Linked DNA regions of Homo sapiens: all the other regions are reported to be linked to region 4. Evidence: microRNA targets listed by miRTarBase, many of them from high-throughput screens and not tested one by one. Region 4 holds a microRNA gene; each other region holds the end of a gene's coding sequence. Distances are from middle to middle.
Evidence for each region. The annotated mature microRNA hsa-miR-580-3p reads UUGAGAAUGAUGAAUCAUUAGG and lies in region 4 at 1,316-1,337, shown strand. An mRNA with a match to its seed (bases 2 to 7 or 8) in the 3' UTR can be bound and repressed. Matches are read on the target gene's strand: a 7mer-m8 pairs with bases 2 to 8, a 7mer-A1 pairs with bases 2 to 7 and ends in A, and an 8mer does both.

Region 1 (4,000 bases), 7.0 Mb from region 4:
TACTGAAGTACATGTAGAGGAGCTGCATGTTGAACGGGTCAATCAAATGCCAGTGGAAGTACAAACTGAACTTCTAGAAGCAGATTTGGACCACGTGACCCCAGAAATCATGAACCAAGAGGAGAGAGAGTCTAGCCAAGCAGATGCTGCTGAGGCTGCCAGGGAAGATCACGAAGATGCTGAGGATTTAGAGACCAAGCCAACAGTGGATTCTGAAGCAGAAAAGGCAGAGAATGAGGACAGAACAGCTCTGCCAGTTTTAGAATGAAATTACACATGAATATATTTTTAAATTTACTTGTTGGGTTTTTGAACTGATTATGGGCAGTTTGACTGTCCTTAATTAAGCCTAACAGACAAGTGGACCAAAGTTAAGCTGTTTCCTGTTGTGCTGAACTGTTGTCCGTTGAAACACATTGATTCCCCTCCCCCTACTTATTGCCACAGAGGAGGGATCTTTTCCATAACTGAAGGGGAGTTTTGAGAAGTATATTTCTGGAAACTTAAATGGATTATATTCTTATTATATAGTTGGGTACGAATGTATCTATTTTCATTGTGGTAAAAGTTCTTCCTTTTCTCTTTCCCAGGTCATGTTCTTCCTCAAATTTTTTCCATATTGTAAAATCAAACTTAAATCATTAGAATACAAGTTTATGTATTCTAATGCATGTTAGAAAATTGAATAATATAGGAAACACAAGGCTGCATGATGAAAAGTGCATTGTTACTGTGCAGTTAAATTTTGGCTTCTGGCTTTCTTTAGTTTGAACAAACGTTCTTGTCTACCCCAGTAGTCACAGATGCCATCTTTGCAACAGAAAGAGTGGTGGTGGCAAAATTTCTAGAATGTTAAAAAAAAAAAAAAATCCACACCCATGTGCCTTCTCAAAACCAACTGAACTTCTATAAAGCATCTCTGGTTCTTTCAAAGTTTGTGTTGTAAGGAGCAATGTAGATGATGCTATAATACTTTATATTTTTGGTTATAATGACAACCACCAGTTCTTTTTCACTTAAGTTAGGTTGAGAAATTTTATTTAATGGCCACTGAAGGGCCATTTTCAATTGGGAAAATTTATTTACATCTGTGGTAAACTTTATTTTGATGAAAAGTTGCACTAGTATTTTACCACCAGATGAGAAAAAGATGAGCAGCATTTAAAAATTAATGTATTTAAAATAAAGTACAGAGAAAGACATGTATATAATTATCAGGCTTTGTTTTGAATGGAATCTTTTCCCCCAATTCTTAATGTAAAGATCTTGTGCTATAACTTTTAAAGCCATACAAATAAGAGTGCTAAACTGTGGACTTAAAAGTAGGTGTGTAAATATTTTTAATCAGTATTACTTGGAAAATAAAATATAACAAACCCATAGACCAATATGCTATTTTTTTTACCTGTTAAATATTGGGAGTTCTTTACATTTTTTAAGTAAACTTTAAAATTATGTGTTCATGACTCTTTTTTAAAAAATTACCAGCGTGAAAGTTTATATCTGGGCAGAGATAGTTCCTCATGTGTCTTTACCCGTGTTAACATGACTGATGCATGAATTGTGATAAATTTTCCATCACACCTCCAACCCCCCAAAATCAGCTCAAAAGCATGGAAGTAGTTCATATTCTTTATGCTAATAGTTCTTACATGGTAGGCACAATAGCAGGAATTCTCCACTTAACTGTGTCAAATGTAAAAGACCAATGCGATTAGCCCCCTTTGGTAATCGTGACGTTAAATGGTATCACATTTACAAAAATACGCTGAAGAGAGTGGCTTCCCAGCATTGGAGAAGTCAGATTTAGATATAAATCTGGAGATAGAGCCAACCATTGTATTAAGGGGGCCACGTTTTTAAGATCAAAATAAGGGTATGAACACTTCCAAGTGTGTACTGTTTGGTAGTTGGGTATCTACTGCAAAGCTTATTTAACAGTATAGTTTTTATTTGAAATTGGAAAATACCAATAATATAATTAAATTATATCCCAGTGAATTTTCAGTTTGCCTTAGGATGCCAATGTTCCTGAGTTGTTTAAGAAAAAAAACCCTAACAGATAGTGGTCTCAAATATGTAAATTACTAGTTAGTATCTGGTGAATTTTGAATGCTGAAAATAGCGCATACTATGCCCTTAAGCTAAGGTATGAAACAAGGATTTTAAAACAAGAGTTCTGACCACAAGGTAAAGATCAAGGGCAAAGGTACATCAAAGTGTTAAAATTATTTGAGTTTTCACATTTGTCAAGACCTTTCGAGGTAGATTTGAGATGCAGATATAGTTCATTTTTCTTTTCCCAAAAGGTATAGAAGCTATCAGTGTACCCAGAATGCCAGTAAATTTGATTGCAAAAGTAGAGGAAAACTATCTACTGGTGATAAACTGTATGTTGAATAACATTTTGTAGTTGGAAAGCACTTTATGTAGAACATAAAACAGCTGTTAACAACTGATGTATATTTGCTTCAAGTACTGAAGCAAACTGGATATTTAGTCCTCCAGTGTTCTACTGTATTTGTACTGGAGTTTTAAGATAAGTCTACAGTATGAGGTACCAAGTTGGACAGTAGAGTGTGCAATGATGATCACATAGAAATAAGTCCCAAGTGCACTGAGAACGATGAGAGGCTTTTCTATCTCTACTCCGTTTCAACAGCAATTCTCAGACATCAATTGGGTGTCCAACAATTGAATCTGACACCACCCAGATTTAGAGCAAGTTAAGTGCTCAGTACCACAAAATTGCCCCCACTTCAGACACCAGCCACAAATGCGATCAACAGGCTACCCGCGCTTCTGCCCAGCCAACCGTAAATTTAGGGTTCTTATGGCCTTCCCATCCCCCCAAGTTCAATAATGCATTGAAACAACTCAGGAAAGCACTATACTTAACGACTACAGTAAGTATACAATTCAGGAACAGCCAAATGGAAGAGATGCATAGAGTAAGGTGGATGGAGGGGGTTGTGGAGGAGAATAGTAGAGGTTTCTCTGCCCTCACTTGGCATGCCACTTTCCCAGCATGTTGATGTGTTCAACTCAGAAGCTCCCTTACTGACATTTTATAACCTAGACTCATTAAATTATTGGCCTCCGGGCTCAATCTCCAGCCCCTCTTCTCCCTGGAGGTCTCGGGTGGGGGTAATAGTTGTAGCCCTTTAATACAACTGGTTCCTCTAGTGACCCGTGCCCATCTTGAAGCTATCTAGGGGCCCTCTGCCAGTAGTCATCTCATTAGCATAAACTGGTAAGATCAAAAGGGGCTTGTAATGAATAACAAAAGACATTCTGGAAATTACAAGGATTTTTGGAGCTGTGTGCAAGGAACCAGGGAGAAAAACCCAAATCCATTTTATTTGTTTTGTTTTTAGACAGTTTCACTCTTGTTGCCCAGGCTGGAGTGCAATGGCACGATCTCTGCTCACTGCAACCTCCACCTCCCAGGTTAAGGCGATTCTCATACCTCAGCCTCTCGAGTAGCTGGGATTACAGGCATGCGCCACCATGCCCGGCTAATTTTTTTTTTTTCAGTAGAGACGGGTTTTCACCATGTTGGTCAGGCTGGTCTCGATCTCTCGACTTCAGGTGATCCACCCACCTCAGCCTCCCAAAGTGCTGGGATTACAGGTATGAGCCACCGTGCTTGGCCTATTTTTTTTTTTTTTTTAATTACACCACACCTATCATTTGAGATTGAAAGAAAAACTAAACTGAATACATTAGCAATACATTTAAAAGCTAGACATCTTTTGGATATGTACAAAATCAGAAGGCTCTTGTAGTCTTACCAGTTTAAAAAGGCTACCTGGCTGGACACGGTGGCTCACGCCTGTAATCCCAACACTTTGGGAGGCCAAGGTGGACAGATCACCAGTTCAGGAGTTCGAGACCAGCCTGGGCCAACATGGTGAAACCCCCATCTCTACTAAAAATACAAGATGAACCAGGCATGGTGGCGGATGCCTGTAATCCCAGCTACTCAGGAGGCTGAGGC
Region 2 (4,000 bases), not on the chromosome of region 4:
GTTTAATATGGAAGATGATATGCTGAAAGCAGTGTCTGAAATAATGGAGATGCAGAAAACCCTTGAAGGAATTCAGTATGATAATAGCATATTAAAGATGCAAAATGAACTGGATATTCTAAAAGAAAAAGTTCATGATTTTATAGCATACTCAAGTACAGGAGAAAAGGGAACTTTAAAAGAATATAATATAGAAAATAAAGGAATTGGTGGTGATTTTTAAATTCATGACATTTATTCTGATGAACCATATCATTATACATAAATTGATTAGTCCATTGATTTTGAGTTACTTTGATACGCCTCATCTTATCCTACATTATTGGAAAATAAATGAGATGTCCACACAAATGGATTATCCACATAATCAAAGCTTATCTTTTTAAGCACTAAAACTTACTTCATTGTAACTATTTGAAATAGAAATAGTTCTTTAAAAATATTTCTCTACTTTTAAAACAAGATACTTAATATTTTTAATGTTTTTTAAAGCATTAATGAACATCATCATTAATTTCACCTATTATATTGTACCCACATATATTGATGTCTCCAGGGGCTAATAAAGAGTATTTACCACTTCACTAAATGACCCCAATTTGCCATTTTCAAACCTATGTCTCATACCTTTTCTGTCACCTGAACTTACTGTCAGGTTGGTTGGTAATGTGCCTGCCTCAGCCAGTTCACTTTCTTAGGTAATTCACTGCAGGTTAAGAATCCACACAACCAAGTTCATGGGAATTTTGTGTAAAATAAAAGATAACATGCCTGAGGGAGAGCCTGGTGCCTTTGCTATGAATTAATATGCACTTTCTGAAAACTCTAAAGCCTGGGAAACATTTTAGTTTTTGTTAAGGTTCTAAACTGTGTTACAGATACTTGTAAGACTTTTAAAATCAGAGTAAGTATGTTCTTACATAAGGCCTTTCTTAGGAATTATGTGTATATAAATCTTTGAAATATCTTTATATACCTGAGTTTTAGGTTCCAACTGTGTTAGACATGAGTTTGCTAGATCCATGGTCTCTAGATGGTTTACTTAAATAGGCCAGGCGCAGTGGCTCACACCTGTAATCCTAGCACTTTGGGAGGCCGAGGTGGGCAGATCACGAAGTCAGGAGATCAAGACCATCTGGCTAACAGGGTGAAACCCTGTCTCTACTAAAAAATACAAAAAATTAGCCAGGCGTGGTGGTGGGTGCCTGTAGTCCCAGCTACTCAGGAGGCTGAGGCAGGAGAATGGTGTGAACCCGGGAGGCAGAGCTTGCAGTGAGCCGAGATCGCGCCACTGCACTCCAGCCTGAGTGGCAAAGTGAGACTCTGTCTCAATAAATAAATAAATAAATAAAAATAAGCCTGTGGCCTGTTTTGAGGGAAAAGTAACATAACTCTGATAATTAATTATGATAATAACTATGATAGTTAAAAATACGTCATTTTAAAGATTTCCCAAACCACACCACTAAATTTGTTTTATGAATTGATTTTATTTTATTTGAAATTATATAATGTAGTCAACTGCAATATGGAAGTTTGTTCTTGTTTCTTTGTCAATAACCTTACCAGTTTTATAATGCAGTTTTTGATGGAATTAAACACAAAGAACTTGAAAGCAGTCAGTTACAAAAAGGTAGTTGTGGTCAAGTAGTTTTAATATGTAAATTTGCAAGTTTTTGGAGAACCCCCAAACTCCTTCTCCACTGGAGTTAGGAGGGCCTGTGGTAGACAGCGTGAATCATGAAAATAAGCCTGGAGAGTTCTGTTATTAAGGGGCATAGCATTAATTTTTGCAGTCTTAAAATTACACTTCTTGACTTCTGAATGTCTCTTATTTGCGTGCACTGACAAAATTCTATTTGTTTACTTTTATATTAATGGTAATAAAATAGATTATAAAGTAAGCTGGAACTTTGTTGTTTTAACCTCCATCCTGTCAAGGCAAATGTGATCTCTTATCTTATATCCTTTACGTTTAAATATTTTTTTCTCACCGATCACCACATTTAATATGAGGTTATTATGAACTTATATATACCATGGTAATGGTTACTGAAAGTAAATGGAAACAAGGTGGCTACTGTTCTCTATAATGACACAAGGGAAAGGAAGAAAACTGCACTTCTACAAGTATAACATGAGAAAACTATTAAAGTATATATGCGTTTGTATGTATGTATAGATATCTAGATAGATATATCCTGTATTTATGAAGAGGTTTTCCTATTAAGAAATTATTAGAGAGATTTAGATGTACTTAATTTGTCTTTCTCTCTTTCTTCCATTCATTTATTTAACACAGATGCTTAAAATTTCAAAAACTTTCCTGTGTATCAAATATTAAATTACATTGTTAGTCTTTTCTTTAGGGAAAATTACCAATATCCTAAAACACATTTTTGTATCTTTGTAACTGATAATAAATTTTATGTCAATTAATTTCTTATAAAGTGGCCAGGCACAGTGCCTCATACTTGTAATCCCAATACTTTGGGAGGCTGAGGCAGAGTGGCTTAAGCCCAGGAGTTTGAGACAGCCTGGGTAACATAGTGAGACCTCGTCCCTACAAAAAAAAAAAAAAAAAAAAAAAAAGTGTAAGGAGGAGTAAGGCCAGGCACAATGGCTCACTCCTATAATTCCAACACTCTGGGAAGCTGAGGTGGGAGGATCGCTTGAGCTCAGGAGTTCAAGACCAGCCTGGATAACATGGTGAGACCTCATGTCTACTAAAAGTCAAAAAAAAGCGCATCCCTGTAGTCCTAGCGACGCAGGAGGCTGAGCCCAGGTGTTCAAGGTTGCAGTGACCTGCACCATTGCATTCCCAGCCTGGGTGACAGAGCAAGACCCTGTCTCAAAAGCATAACAGTACTGGATCAGCTGGGCGCAGTGGCTCACCCCTGTAATCCCAGCACTTTGGGAGGCCGAGGTGGGCGGATCACCTGAGGTCAGGAGTTCAAGACCAGCCTGGCCAATATGGTGAAACCCCGTCTCTACTAAAAATACAAAATTAGCCGGGCATGGTAGCAGGCGCCTGTAATCCCAGCTACTCGGGAGGCTGAGGCAGGAGAATCACTTGAACCGGGAGGCAGAGGTTGCAGTGAGCCAAAATCACGCCATTGCACTACAGCCTGGCAACAGAGTGAGACTCCATCTCAAAAAAAAAAGTAAAAGTACTGGATCAATTTTTTTAATGTTAACAGGAATAAATCACTTTTACAATACAAGCACCTAATTATTTTTAAACTTTTGAATATATAATTTTTAAATGTAATATTGCCTTAAATTTTGCTTAATGATCAGAAACTATTGACTAATTATACTTGTATATTTTATAACCAAAAATCTTGATTTATTAGCCTGTGTGGCTTCATAGAAAAACCCATAAGATGCAAAATTAGTAGTATTATTTTTCTTCTCAACCTAATTGTAGACCTTTGTATGAATCTATAACATTGTTCAAATTTTGATATGATGCCATTACACAGTAATGATGCTGAAAATTTACCAAACTCAATAAGAAAAAAAAAAAAACATCCTTTGTAGACTTACCCCATATTTGCACAGTTGACAAAAGCTCTACAAATTTTCCTAGCACCTGCTCATTTCAATTTATAAGCTATTAATTAATTTTGGGACAGGGTCTCACTCTGTCACCCAGGCTGGAGTGTAGTGGCGTGAGCACTGCTCACCACAGTGTCAACTTCCTGGGCCCAAGGGATCCTCCCATCTCAGCTCCTCCGATTGCTGGGACTACAGGTGCACACCGCCATGCCAAGCTAATTTTATTTTTTTGTAGAAACAGTCTCATTATGTTGCCCAGGCTGGTCTCAAACTCCTGGGCTGAAGCAGTTCTCCCATCTGGTCTTCCCAAAGTGCTGGGATTAGAGGTGTAAGCCACCATACCCAGCCTATAAACTATTAATTTAATACAAATCAAAATACTCCACCCCAGCTTTACACAGCAGGAGAGGAGAGAACTAACACTTCAGCACCTGTTAAA
Region 3 (4,000 bases), not on the chromosome of region 4:
CAGCCATCTACGGAGGCAGTGCCAGTTACTCTGCCTACAGCTGCAGCCAGCTGCCCACTTGCGGAGACCAAGTCTATTCTGTGCGCAGGCGGCAGAAGCCAAGTGACAGAGCTGACTCGCGGCGGAGCTGGCATGAAGAGAGCCCCTTTGAAAAGCAGTTTAAACGCAGAAGCTGCCAAATGGAATTTGGAGAGAGCATCATGTCAGAGAACAGGTCACGGGAAGAGCTGGGGAAAGTGGGCAGTCAGTCTAGCTTTTCGGGCAGCATGGAAATCATTGAGGTCTCCTGAGAAGAAAGACACTTGTGACTTCTATAGACAATTTTTTTTTCTTGTTCACAAAAAAATTCCCTGTAAATCTGAAATATATATATGTACATACATATATATTTTTGGAAAATGGAGCTATGGTGTAAAAGCAACAGGTGGATCAACCCAGTTGTTACTCTCTTAACATCTGCATTTGAGAGATCAGCTAATACTTCTCTCAACAAAAATGGAAGGGCAGATGCTAGAATCCCCCCTAGACGGAGGAAAACCATTTTATTCAGTGAATTACACATCCTCTTGTTCTTAAAAAAGCAAGTGTCTTTGGTGTTGGAGGACAAAATCCCCTACCATTTTCACGTTGTGCTACTAAGAGATCTCAAATATTAGTCTTTGTCCGGACCCTTCCATAGTACACCTTAGCGCTGAGACTGAGCCAGCTTGGGGGTCAGGTAGGTAGACCCTGTTAGGGACAGAGCCTAGTGGTAAATCCAAGAGAAATGATCCTATCCAAAGCTGATTCACAAACCCACGCTCACCTGACAGCCGAGGGACACGAGCATCACTCTGCTGGACGGACCATTAGGGGCCTTGCCAAGGTCTACCTTAGAGCAAACCCAGTACCTCAGACAGGAAAGTCGGGGCTTTGACCACTACCATATCTGGTAGCCCATTTTCTAGGCATTGTGAATAGGTAGGTAGCTAGTCACACTTTTCAGACCAATTCAAACTGTCTATGCACAAAATTCCCGTGGGCCTAGATGGAGATAATTTTTTTTTCTTCTCAGCTTTATGAAGAGAAGGGAAACTGTCTAGGATTCAGCTGAACCACCAGGAACCTGGCAACATCACGATTTAAGCTAAGGTTGGGAGGCTAACGAGTCTACCTCCCTCTTTGTAAATCAAAGAATTGTTTAAAATGGGATTGTCAATCCTTTAAATAAAGATGAACTTGGTTTCAAGCCAAATGTGAATTTATTTGGGTTGGTAGCAGAGCAGCAGCACCTTCAAATTCTCAGCCAAAGCAGATGTTTTTGCCCTTTCTGCTTCACTGCATGGATACAGTTGGTAAAATGTAATAATATGGCAGAATTTTATAGGAAACTTCCTAGGGAGGTAAATTATGGGAAGATTAAGAAAGGTACAAATTGCTGAGGAGAAGCAGGAAACCTGTTTCCTTAGTGGCTTTTATCCCCTCGGCATGCGATGGGGCTGATGTTTCTATGATTGCCTCAGACTTTCACATTTACTAGTAGGGCTGAGAGAGGCTTTAGTGAGGAAGGAATATTCAGAATAAAACGGTTGAGAAAGCTGAGAAGACCATTGAGTTTTGATCAGTTGTGAATAGAGTGCAAAGCCATGGCCAAGCTGTTTTTGGAAACGCTGGCCGGCGTGTCTTCAGTGGAAAAAGCAAATCAAAATGGAGCGAGAGCAAAGGGGCGTCCTCAGTCCTCAACCTACAATCACTGTATGGAATCGGTCCTGGCAGCTGAACATAGGAGGTCACTGGAACAAGTGATAGTGCAGATTGGCTTTCAAACATCCTCCTGGCTTGAGTTTTATCAGCTACAATGTGGGTCCTCTTTTGAAGCCTTAATTCACAACAGCAGCTTTTTGGGGGTGGGGCTGGGCGGGTGTTGTCATTGTTCTTTCCCTTCCTGTAAGTGTCGCTAGTTGCTGCCTCGTATCTCAGGTTTTTCTCTGTTTTTGAGAAATGGACAGTTTTTTGACCAGGATGTGACTTCATGTTTCCTATGGTGACTTCTAAAACCAGCACAGAATGATATGACTCAACACAGACCGACTTGGTTATGGGGATGATGAGCCGCACAGACCTCACTAGTTGTGCACAAATAATGTGCTATGATGGGGTGTAAAGTGAAGGCAGAAGAGGGTCAGCCGCATTGTTATGATACTGGGAAAGTGCTGGTCAACGATTTGAGTTAGTTTTTAGATATACATTGAAATCTTTAATCAGACATTCTCAAGTTTCACACAGTAGTTTTTGATGTTATGTACACACACACCAAATGTGTAACAGTTCACCACTTCCAGAGTGTGGTCATGCCCAAAACATGTTTAAGAAAGGAAAGCAGTAGCTCCTTGCTAACGATGTTTCAGGAGGTTTGGGGGACTTGGTTTTAATGAGCTTCTGTCATTTAGGGCTTCTCTTGGCCATGGTCCCCCTTCCTTCTGGAACTGTGATGTAGTCACATCCTACAGCCTTTAGTGCTGGTTCACTAGTGTCAGATAATCAGTTCTTGGAATCGAGACTGCCGTGGCGAAGGGGTGGCCTCGGAGGCAGGCTCTGGAGCTGCTTGGATGTCTTTAGGTGGGGTGGTGGCTGGCTCTCTTCAGCATGTAATTGGGGAAACCCTCGCGTCTACTAGGGGTGATACAGATGGTGATTTTAAAGAGCAAAACTAGACTTCTATGTGAGAAGTGCTGGAAAATGATTTAGGACATGTGTAAAGTTAGATGGAAAGACTGTAAATGTTTAATATGAATATAGTGTTCTTTTGAAGTAAGGCCAGCTGTTGAACGGTTAAACTGTGCATTTCTCATTTTGATGTGTCATGTATGTTAATGTATGAAATGATTAAATAAAATCAAAACTGGTACCTGTTTATACATAAATACGAGAAAAGACCTATCTTTGCAGCCATAAACTCGGTGGGAACACCACCACTCAAGTTGCCAAAGGAGGCAGTGGTGAAACCTGTCCTGTTCTCACTTAAATGAGGATTTAGCTCAAAATAAAGTGGTGGTGTCATCAGGTTTATTCCGTGTTCTGTCATTCACATGGAACACCGGATGATTAGCTAACAGTTTAGTGCCAGCCTTCATTCTTTACTGTGTACGTTAAATGCACACTACAGTGAAAAAGCCTAAGACACTTGGTAAATATTTTCTAGCTGACTGATTCCAGAACACACAAGTACATGGTAGGAAAAAAAAGGCCAGCTACACACACATGGCCCATTTCGATATAACATGTAAATGATGTTACGATTCCTACAGGAAAAACAGGAAGGGCAATTGTTGAAGAGCTGTCCTTTGTCCTTGCCACATACATCTCAACAACCTCTCTGCTCATGACACTAGATTTGATGACTTATGAGACTAGAAACTTAGTCTCATCAGTTTCATAAAAATTAGGCATTGAAGGAATAAAGCTTCAGTGCAAACAGATGGAATATTGACTACAGAAAGAATCACAGGTGACCTTGAAGTTGGTTGAGTTGAAGTTACATTTAAGAAAATTTATAAGAAAGATTGGGCCGGGTGAGCTAGACTAGAAGAGCTATCTTGGCCAGGACCCTGCAGAAAAAGAGGTGGAAGTGAGATAGAGGAATAAAGGGAATTAGAATAAATCAGCCTCCAGAGATAGAGGGTAACAGGAGGAACAGTTGTTTCAGTGAGAGGCTTCCAATGAGAAGATGCAGATCTTGGGAGAGCCTGAAGTTCAGGCCAGTTGCTGACAGTGCTCGGAGCCCCTTCATGACCAGCCTCAGCAGGCTATTGTTGGAGGACTGGTTTGGATGTGACAACTACAATTAGACCAGGAATTAAACTAAGAGGGGAGGCTGGGGGCGGTGGCTCACGCTTGTAATCCCAGCACTTTGGGAGGCCAAGGCAGGTGGATTACCTGAGGTCAGGAGTTTGAGACCAACCGGGCCTACCTGGTGAAATCCCTTCTCTACTAAAAATACAAAAATTAGCCAGGTGTGGGT
Region 4 (4,152 bases):
TCTTCCCACTAGACTTTTTAAGGGCAGGGACTTTGCTTGGATTTTTCTATCTCCAGCCCCTTGAACAGAGCTCACCATATAGTAGGCGTTCAGTAAATATTTGCTAAATGAATGAATGGTGCTTGGAACTAAGTAGATCTTTAATTCATTGTAATTTAATGCTCTAAGATAGGCAGCTTGGGGCAAGAACAAACGGATTCTAATTTACTCTATGTTTTCCACTTTTCCCATGTAGAGTACAGTCATATATTACCCTTAAATCAAGTAATAGTAGTATAATCTGTAATGTAAAAAGTTTGCGTTAAATTCTTTATTAAACATGACTAAGCATTCTGTCCTGATATATCTAAAAGAAATGGGAGAAAGTTTCTAATTTGTTCCCTGTGAAGACTGAACAAAATAAATCATTAAGCAATTTAAATTGCATTAAGAAACTATGTCTAGATTAGAGAAGAGACATGTAATTATGATCCAGGCTCTGTAGTAAAGATGCCTCTATTTGAATCCCAGCTTTACCATTCACCAGCTCTGTTAACTTGGACAAGTTACTTAACCTCTCTGCACTGTTTTTTTTCTGTTAAGCAAGGAAACGAACAGCCCTTTCTTACTAGGTTGTGAGGTCTAATTTGATAAAGCTTGGCAGGTACTAGTATTAATACAATGCTTAAAATTTAGTGAACACATTCTAAATGTTAGCTATTCGTTTTTTGAAATTATTTTATTATTAGGAAGGACTTTACAGATTATTCTCTATCAAAATGTCTTGCAATTTCTATGTATGAAATCTTTAAGAATTCAGTAAAATTTTAGTTCTTTTTTCTTATATGCTTACATGATTGCTACCTCTTCTCTTCATGCCTTGCAAAAGGTAAAGCAGGACAGTATGCCACTGTCCTCAGGGGCTTGTCACATTTTGGAATTCAGGTTACCTGGTTGGTTCGCCAACTCAGCTCTTAGGTACCTTTAAAAAATATTATGATGGTTTTTTTTTTTTTTTCATTTTTCGAGTGGGAGTAATAGTCTCTTGCAGTAGTCTGTGTCCTAAACTGAACTCTCTCATACCTGAAATCTTTAAATATGTGAATAACGATTATGTTTGGAAGATTTAAATTTAATTATTGGTGGAAAATTGTTGACTTAATCATTCACTTCTAATTCTGGTTCTTTTGATTTTTCATAATTAGGATTTTGAGTTGTCTCCTGGTTTTTATTATTTTGCACATATCTGAGTAAAAATACAGATATGTGAAGTTAGATAAAATTTCCAATTGGAACCTAATGATTCATCAGACTCAGATATTTAAGTTAACAGTATTTGAGAATGATGAATCATTAGGTTCCGGTCAGAAATTTTTCATTCAGTTTCAGAATCTTTGGTTTTGACAAAATTGTTGTCAGTGTTTTGTTTGTGTTCTGATCACTTGGTACCCATTCTCTCTCTCTCTCTCTCAAAACATTTGGAATTCTTCAAACTACAAAATTATCTTAACCTCTGAAGTTCCATCAAAGGGTATTTGGCCTGAAAAACTATTATCAGCCGTAAAGTACTCAGGAAACAGTACTTTAGTCAGTAACATTAGTCAGTAACATTAACACGCTAATTGTGAAACCATTATAAAGGCATTTGAAAGTAATATTGAATAATATTTTGATGATTGGAAAAAGATTGAATTGGATTTTAAATGTTTAAGACTTTCAGAACTGGTGTTTTGAAGGGTACGATATGCCCACACATCGGGCACTAAAATCTGGTAGTTTTAATGAATTGCCATTTTGATTTCGAGTATAATCAAGTTTTGCTACTGTGGTGCTTAATCACATGGAACTGAATTTTTATTTACCTCCCCATTTTAGTATCACCATCATCATCATTATCATCATTATCATCCCCTTTCTTCTCCTTCTTCCCTAAACCTTGCAACTCATCACTTGAATGTTGGCACAAGGTTAAAGATATGGACTTTGAAACTATTATTTTCTCAAGTTAGGAAAACCCCAATTTTTATCTCCAGTTTCATGGGATCACTGGTCCTAATCTGTGTCATAATAAGGCAATATAGTTCGGCCTCAACAGAAATAGATGGTATGGTAAACAGAATAATAAACCCCTAAGAATGTCTATGCTCTTATCTCTGGAACCAGTAAAAATGATGAAATTATTCAGGCAGGCCCAGTGTAATCAGATAAGCCCTGTAAAACAAATTTCAAGTGTGAGAAGAATTTGACAAGCCATTGCTGCTTCTAAAATATTCAGGACCACAGACACACACACACACACACACACACACACACACACACACACTCACACACACACACACACACGCAGAGAGAGAAGTGAGTGAGGAGATAGATATGTTAATTTGTTTGACTATGGTGATTATTTCACTGTATATGTACAGTATATCAAAACATCACTGTTGTGCACTTTAAATATATACAATTTAAAAACATATACAGAGCCACATGCAAAGACTGGGGAGAGGCCTCTAGAGCTAAGGTTAAATGCCAGCTGTCAGTTTGCAGGGGAACAGGGATCTCAGTCCTATAACCATAAAGAACTGAGTTTTGGCTTGGCTAGGTGGATCATGCCTGAAATCTCAGTGCTTTGGGAGGCCAAGGTGAGAGGATCACTTGCAGCCAGGTATTTGAGTCCAGCCTGGGCAACATAGCAAGACCCTGTCTCTACAAAAAAAATTTTTTTTTAAAATTAGCCAGGCGTGGTGGTGTGCACCTATAGTCCTAGCTATCTGGAAGCTGAGGTGGGAGGATCAGTTGAGCCCAGGAGCTCAAGGTTATGTTGAGCCATGATCATGCCACTGCCCTCCGGCCTGGGCGACAGTGTGAGACCCTGCCAGTAGCCTGAATGAGATTAGAAATGGATTCTTCTTCAGAGAAAGATGCAAACCTGCTGACACCTTGATTTTAAACTTGTGTGACCCTAAGCAGAGAACTAAGTTGAACTATGCTATGTTTGAACTTCTGACCTACAGAAGCTATAAGATATTAATACTAAATGGATGTTGTTTAAAGTCACTAAGTTTGTAGTAATTTGTTACAGCAGTGGTAAGATACTAACACATGAAGTGTGGGAAGGTATGTAACCAAATCATTTATTACTAGAATAAAGGATCCATAATTCTATTTCTTCATCTACAACCCTTTAAAGTGCTGACTATGAATCAGACTGAAAAACAGAGTGCCATAGTAAAAAAATTAATAGCTAGTGTCAGGTTTATAACTGATTTTGTTGTTTGCTTATTATGCCCATAATCTTACCACCTAAAGACTATTGATGTTTTAATATATTTCATTGTTACCTTACTCTTTTTTATGCTTATGTAAAAATATGTGCCAAATTTTCAATTGCTGTTAGGGTAATTTTCTGATGTTATTAAATAATCTTAACAAACATTATTTCTTATACTACAATAATATTTCATCATTTGGCTCTGCCATGCTTTATTTAGCATTTCTTTGGTAATCTCTAATATTTAGTCTTTTTTTTGTATGATTGTCATATTCCTTGCACTGGACAATTTCAGGTCTAGTTCAAGTCATAAAAGGATTTTCAGTTAATTATGTTATATTTAAACTCACATCAATTGGGTTTTTTTAAAGAAAAAAAACCCTAGATCTCGAAGATGGTTTTGTTATCAGCACATTCTGCATTGAGCTTTCAGCCAACTACTTAATCTATGCTTAGCTTAAAAATAAGATTTGGCTGGGCGCTGTGGCGCATGCCTGTAATTGCAGCACTTTGGGAGCTGAGGCAGGTGGATCACTTGAGCTCAGGAGTTCGAGACCAGCCCAGGCAACATGGCAAAACCTTGTCTATTTTTTAAAACATAAGATTTGACTTTGTTGTGGTATAAGTTGTTTCATAGAATATGAAATTTGAAAATTTGAGTAGTATTTGGTAATGTTCAGAGTTTTAAGCCTTTTGAGTTGTAATAAGTATTTGTTAAATCAGTTTACCATTACACGAGTTTTACATTGCCTTTGAAGTCGTCAGTAATAGAAAAATAGTGTATGTACTAAACTACACAGTATTTTTTATTATTTCAACAAATATTTCTTGATACTACTGTATGCCAGGTACTAACTACATCAGACAACTGGAATATAGTATGGAATAAAATAGTCAAGTCTCTG
Region 5 (4,000 bases), not on the chromosome of region 4:
ATATTATGATGATTGCATTACAACTCAAAATCCACAGCAGATAATATTAAATGTGCGTTGAAATACCAGAAATGCTGCAAGCATTGTTACTCAAAGTGTGGCCTGAAGCCCAGCAGCATCGGGATTCTCAGGTGGTTCAATTGTCCATTAGTTTGAGAAGCACTGTTGTAAACTTTCGAGAACTGCAAATTCAGCTAACGATCATGCTTGATGGGTTGAGATGGAAGGATAACATGTCATTAGAGTTGTATTATTGTATTGTGAGTTAAATTGAGAAAAATGTCCACGTTTTACTATCCTTTACATTCTCGAAAACTATTAAAACTGTATCCATTTATTGCCTTCGATAGAGAAAATGCTTAAATCGAATCCCAAGTTTGATTTAATGTCAATGGCAGTGTTTTCTGAAGATTCTATATGACACGTTCATGGAAGTGAAATGATTTTCAAAAGCAAAGAGCCAAGCACAAAGCTCTTAACAAGTGGCTGACGGTAGATTTGGTAGTTTTTTTTGTTTGTTTGTTTGTTTGTTTTTTTGAGACGGAGTCTCGCTCTCTCGCCCAGGCTGGAGTGCAGAGGCGCGATCTCGGCTCCCTGCAAGCTCCGCCTCCCGGGTTCACGCCATTCTCCTGCCTCAGCCTCCCGAGTAGCTGAGACTACAGGCCCCCGCCACCGCGCCCGGCTAATTATTTGTATTTTTAGTAGAGACGGGGTTTCACCTTGTTAGCCAGGATGGTCTCGATCTCCTGACCTCGTGATCCGCTTGCCTCGGCCTCCCAAAGTGCTGGGATTACAGGCGTGAGCCACCGCGCCCGGCCTTTGGTAGTTTTAAAATTCAAAGAACTCATTACAGCAGAACTAATTCATAGTATAATAATAAGTTTGCCAGGGGAAGTAGTGACCCTCATAAATGTTCAAGAACAATAAAATTCTGGTCACTGGTAATGTGAGAAAAACCACTAATACCCACAGCCAACTGGATTCACATAATGGGATTAAAATGATACAGAGAGAGAGGACCGAAAAGAAGTCCCCATGTGTTCACTGAATACAAAAGAGAAACATCTTAACAAATATAAGTATTCAAAACACAAAAGTGGAGCAAGCAAGAGATAAAATTCATGTTTAGATGAGAAGACCTCTCACTGAGATTTTTTATGTGCTTTTATTCTAATACGTTCCCCCTCATTACCTTTGAAGCAGTTTAATTAAATGCTAAGGATACATTTAACACTTGAAACAAAAAAGTAAATTTCCAATAGAAAGACAAAAATTAGTGATTATAGACAAAGCAGAGACGACTGGGAGGGAAAACTGGAGTTAGATTCTGTCTCTGACATCAGGGCACACTTGGCTGGAAAACATTTTTCCGCTTAATGATAATCTTTAAAAGTTATTGGAATCTCTGCCTGTTTTCAAATCCTTTGCCTCTGGCAAACGTCCATTCACTCTGACTTTTGCAATAATACAAATAACTAAATTTGACTCAATAAAACCAAGTATTATTTTACAAGTACAAACTGAAAGTCAACCCAAGGTTTGGCTTGTTGTTTTTTGAAATTGATGCTAATTTTAAGCAACAATTCAGAGAATCCCAGGAGGTTTACATGAGGTCATTAGTAGCAAAATCATTTCTAAGTAATTCAAAGTGTTTTCACACTGCTGAATCACTTGGCATCTTCCACATACCCACCTCATGTTCTTGTTACCCAGAAGACAGTAGCAGAATTTGACGTAAAACCTCCCTCTGTGGCGGTATTAAAAGTGAGATACGTGACTCTTGATTTTTTGTATTAGAATGACTATGACACCTTAAACTTCACTTGGGGTCCACAGGTGAGGTCTTAAGAGATGAACTTAGTACTCTCATAAAAGTCTTACTCTTATTTTATCAATTATATGGAACAACAGCTAACATTTTACTGAGTAAAACAAGAGATTAACAAGAACTTAAAAATGGGAGAAATGGTGGGTGTGGTGGCTCATGCTTGTAATCCCAGCACTTTGGGAGGCCAAGGCACGAGGATCATTTGAGACCAGGTGTTCAAGACAAGCCTGGGAAGCATAGGGAGACCCTGTTTCTACCAAAATTTTTAAAAACTTACCTCTGCACATATTCCAAAAATAATAATAAATTTAGAAATTGGCCAAGCATGGTGGTGCATGCCTGTAGTCCAAGCTACTCAAGAGGCTGAGGTGGAGCCTGGGAGGTGGAGCCCCTTGAGTAGCTGGGACTACAGGCATGCACTTGAGCCTGGGGAGGTCGAGGCTACAGTGAGCCATGATCACACCACTGCACTCCAGCCTTGCCGACAGAGTGAGACCTTGTCTCAAAAAAAAGGGGGGGTGGGGGGAGAAAAGGTGTAAGAATTAAGAAGCCACCCTCATGCTGTGATAAACATCTGCAAGCTTCAGCAACTGTCAGCTGAAGCAATCTGAATACTAAACGTTTTTGTGTCAGAAGAGAGTTACACTGAAGGCCTTTGACAGTGGTGCAAATGTGGGAGGCATAAAGCTGATACTTGGGGACCGGATGAGAGTTGTGACTGGGCCTGCATCCAAATGCCTGCTGTCACCAGTGATTCAGAAACAGTGGACTCACACAAGAGCTGAGAGGAGGTTTGGGCCCCATCAGTACTGACCACATCTTAAAAGGAAACCTGATTTGTGGCTCCTAGCAACCTAAAATCATAGACTGTTCAAAGAAACTAGAAATGTTTCTAGAAAGGAAGCTTAGGGCCCCACATAAACATCCTCGCCAGGGAAAGAAACTGGGACCCAGGGAGTCAGAAGAAATCTATTCCAAGAACCCAAACCATCTAATGTAATGTAAAAGAGACATTACACTTGATTTCCCTTCCAATTAATTCAGCTTTGTCCAATCACGTGAAATGAAGATACTGTAAACATGCAAATGGCCCTATGTTCTCCTTAAAGTGATTTTTGCCTCAAACAGTCTCGAATAATTAAATTTATGTGCCCTCCACAATGCAAAACTAAAGTATTATAAAGGTTTTCCTGTGGCCCCCAGTGACCATTAAGAGTACTTCAAAATATACAAATATACAGAATCATAGAAAAATAGCTTCTTCATCTAGACAGAGACAGCTATTTGCTTCGGCAAATATTGGGTCTTTGAGAAGACAGTGTCAATTTTATTGCTTTTTGAAATGCTGTGTAAAGTGTGGTACTTAACAATTTGCACATTGGGCAATTTCCATCTGTAAGTTTAAATATATGTGATAAGAAAAAGTACATGCATATTAGGAATATATAAAATTTTTCAAAATCATCATCTTTACATTAGAAATTTCTTTACACAAACATCTTAACTTTTAAAAAAAGTAGCAAATGGCTATAATGCTCTAAGACTGCAGAAAATCCAGCTTTCTGTTTAAGCAGCCTTTCACTGAGAGACACGAGTGATGGCAGATGAAGGCCTCTTAAGAATAGACTCAACAGAAAATGACAGTGGTTCATTCACCGAGAGTTTTGTTCCAACTTGTTTGGCTACAAAAAGGTCTTTTGCACATCTATCTATTGTAAATGTGTACTTCTGGTTGTCCTTAACTAAACACTCTCTGTGTTTCTTAGGGGTCTCTTCAAAGGCCTCTTTGACAAATGGTGTTTTCAACTCAGGACCCGATTTGTCAGTAAGTGTTTGCTGGAATAATGAGTGGAATGGATTATGTCTAAGTGGCAGAGGGTGCCTGGTGTTTTCTTTGCTGATCTTCGTTAAGACATGCCCTTGAGCTGCCAGGGAGTCCGTGTCAACAATGGGAGAGAAATTCCGTCGGGGTGGGGAGAACGCGGACCTCTCTGGGACAGCCTGATGACCCTGAAGGTCACTTCTCGTGGTCTGGATCTCAGGAGTGTGAGGCAGCACCAGGGAACCTTCCAATTTCGATGGCATCATGTCCTGCTCTGCACTGAGTCCATCCTGGACTCGTGCTCCCTTCAAGTCCCAGCTGGCCCCAGGCTTCAGGGCTTGAACTGAGGT

Region 1: the mRNA of ZNF131 is a reported target of hsa-miR-580-3p. Seed matches in the 3' UTR shown: 7mer-A1 at 886-892.
Region 2: the mRNA of IKBIP is a reported target of hsa-miR-580-3p. The part of its 3' UTR that is shown has no 7-base or 8-base seed match.
Region 3: miRTarBase lists DUSP16 as a target of hsa-miR-580-3p. Seed matches in the 3' UTR shown: 7mer-m8 at 1,278-1,284 and 8mer at 2,247-2,254.
Region 5: miRTarBase lists DMRT2 as a target of hsa-miR-580-3p. Seed matches in the 3' UTR shown: 7mer-A1 at 3,136-3,142.

The regions. Positions count from the first base shown.
Region 1 is chr5:43,174,866-43,178,865 of GRCh38, forward strand. It overlaps ZNF131 (zinc finger protein 131), which reads left to right. Exons shown (of 7, transcript NM_001330707.2): 7 at 1-1,457. The coding sequence ends at 268. Among named protein-coding and RNA genes, the nearest start is that of NIM1K, 15 kb to the right of the region's middle.
Region 2 is chr12:98,622,153-98,626,152 of GRCh38, reverse strand. It overlaps IKBIP (IKBKB interacting protein), which reads left to right. Exons shown (of 3, transcript NM_153687.4): 3 at 1-1,904. The coding sequence ends at 223. Among named protein-coding and RNA genes, the nearest start is that of IKBIP, 21 kb to the left of the region's middle.
Region 3 is chr12:12,473,123-12,477,122 of GRCh38, reverse strand. DUSP16 (dual specificity phosphatase 16) reads left to right here. Exons shown (of 7, transcript NM_030640.3): 7 at 1-3,841. The coding sequence ends at 290. Among named protein-coding and RNA genes, the nearest start is that of DUSP16, 88 kb to the left of the region's middle.
Region 4 is chr5:36,145,092-36,149,243 of GRCh38, reverse strand. MIR580 (microRNA 580) reads left to right here and starts at 1,256; the gene lies at 1,256-1,352. All of the region lies in intron 1 of LMBRD2 (LMBR1 domain containing 2), which reads left to right.
Region 5 is chr9:1,056,680-1,060,679 of GRCh38, reverse strand. DMRT2 (doublesex and mab-3 related transcription factor 2) reads right to left here. Exons shown (of 4, transcript NM_181872.6): 4 at 3,128-4,000. The coding sequence ends at 3,407. Among named protein-coding and RNA genes, the nearest start is that of DMRT2, 8.3 kb to the right of the region's middle.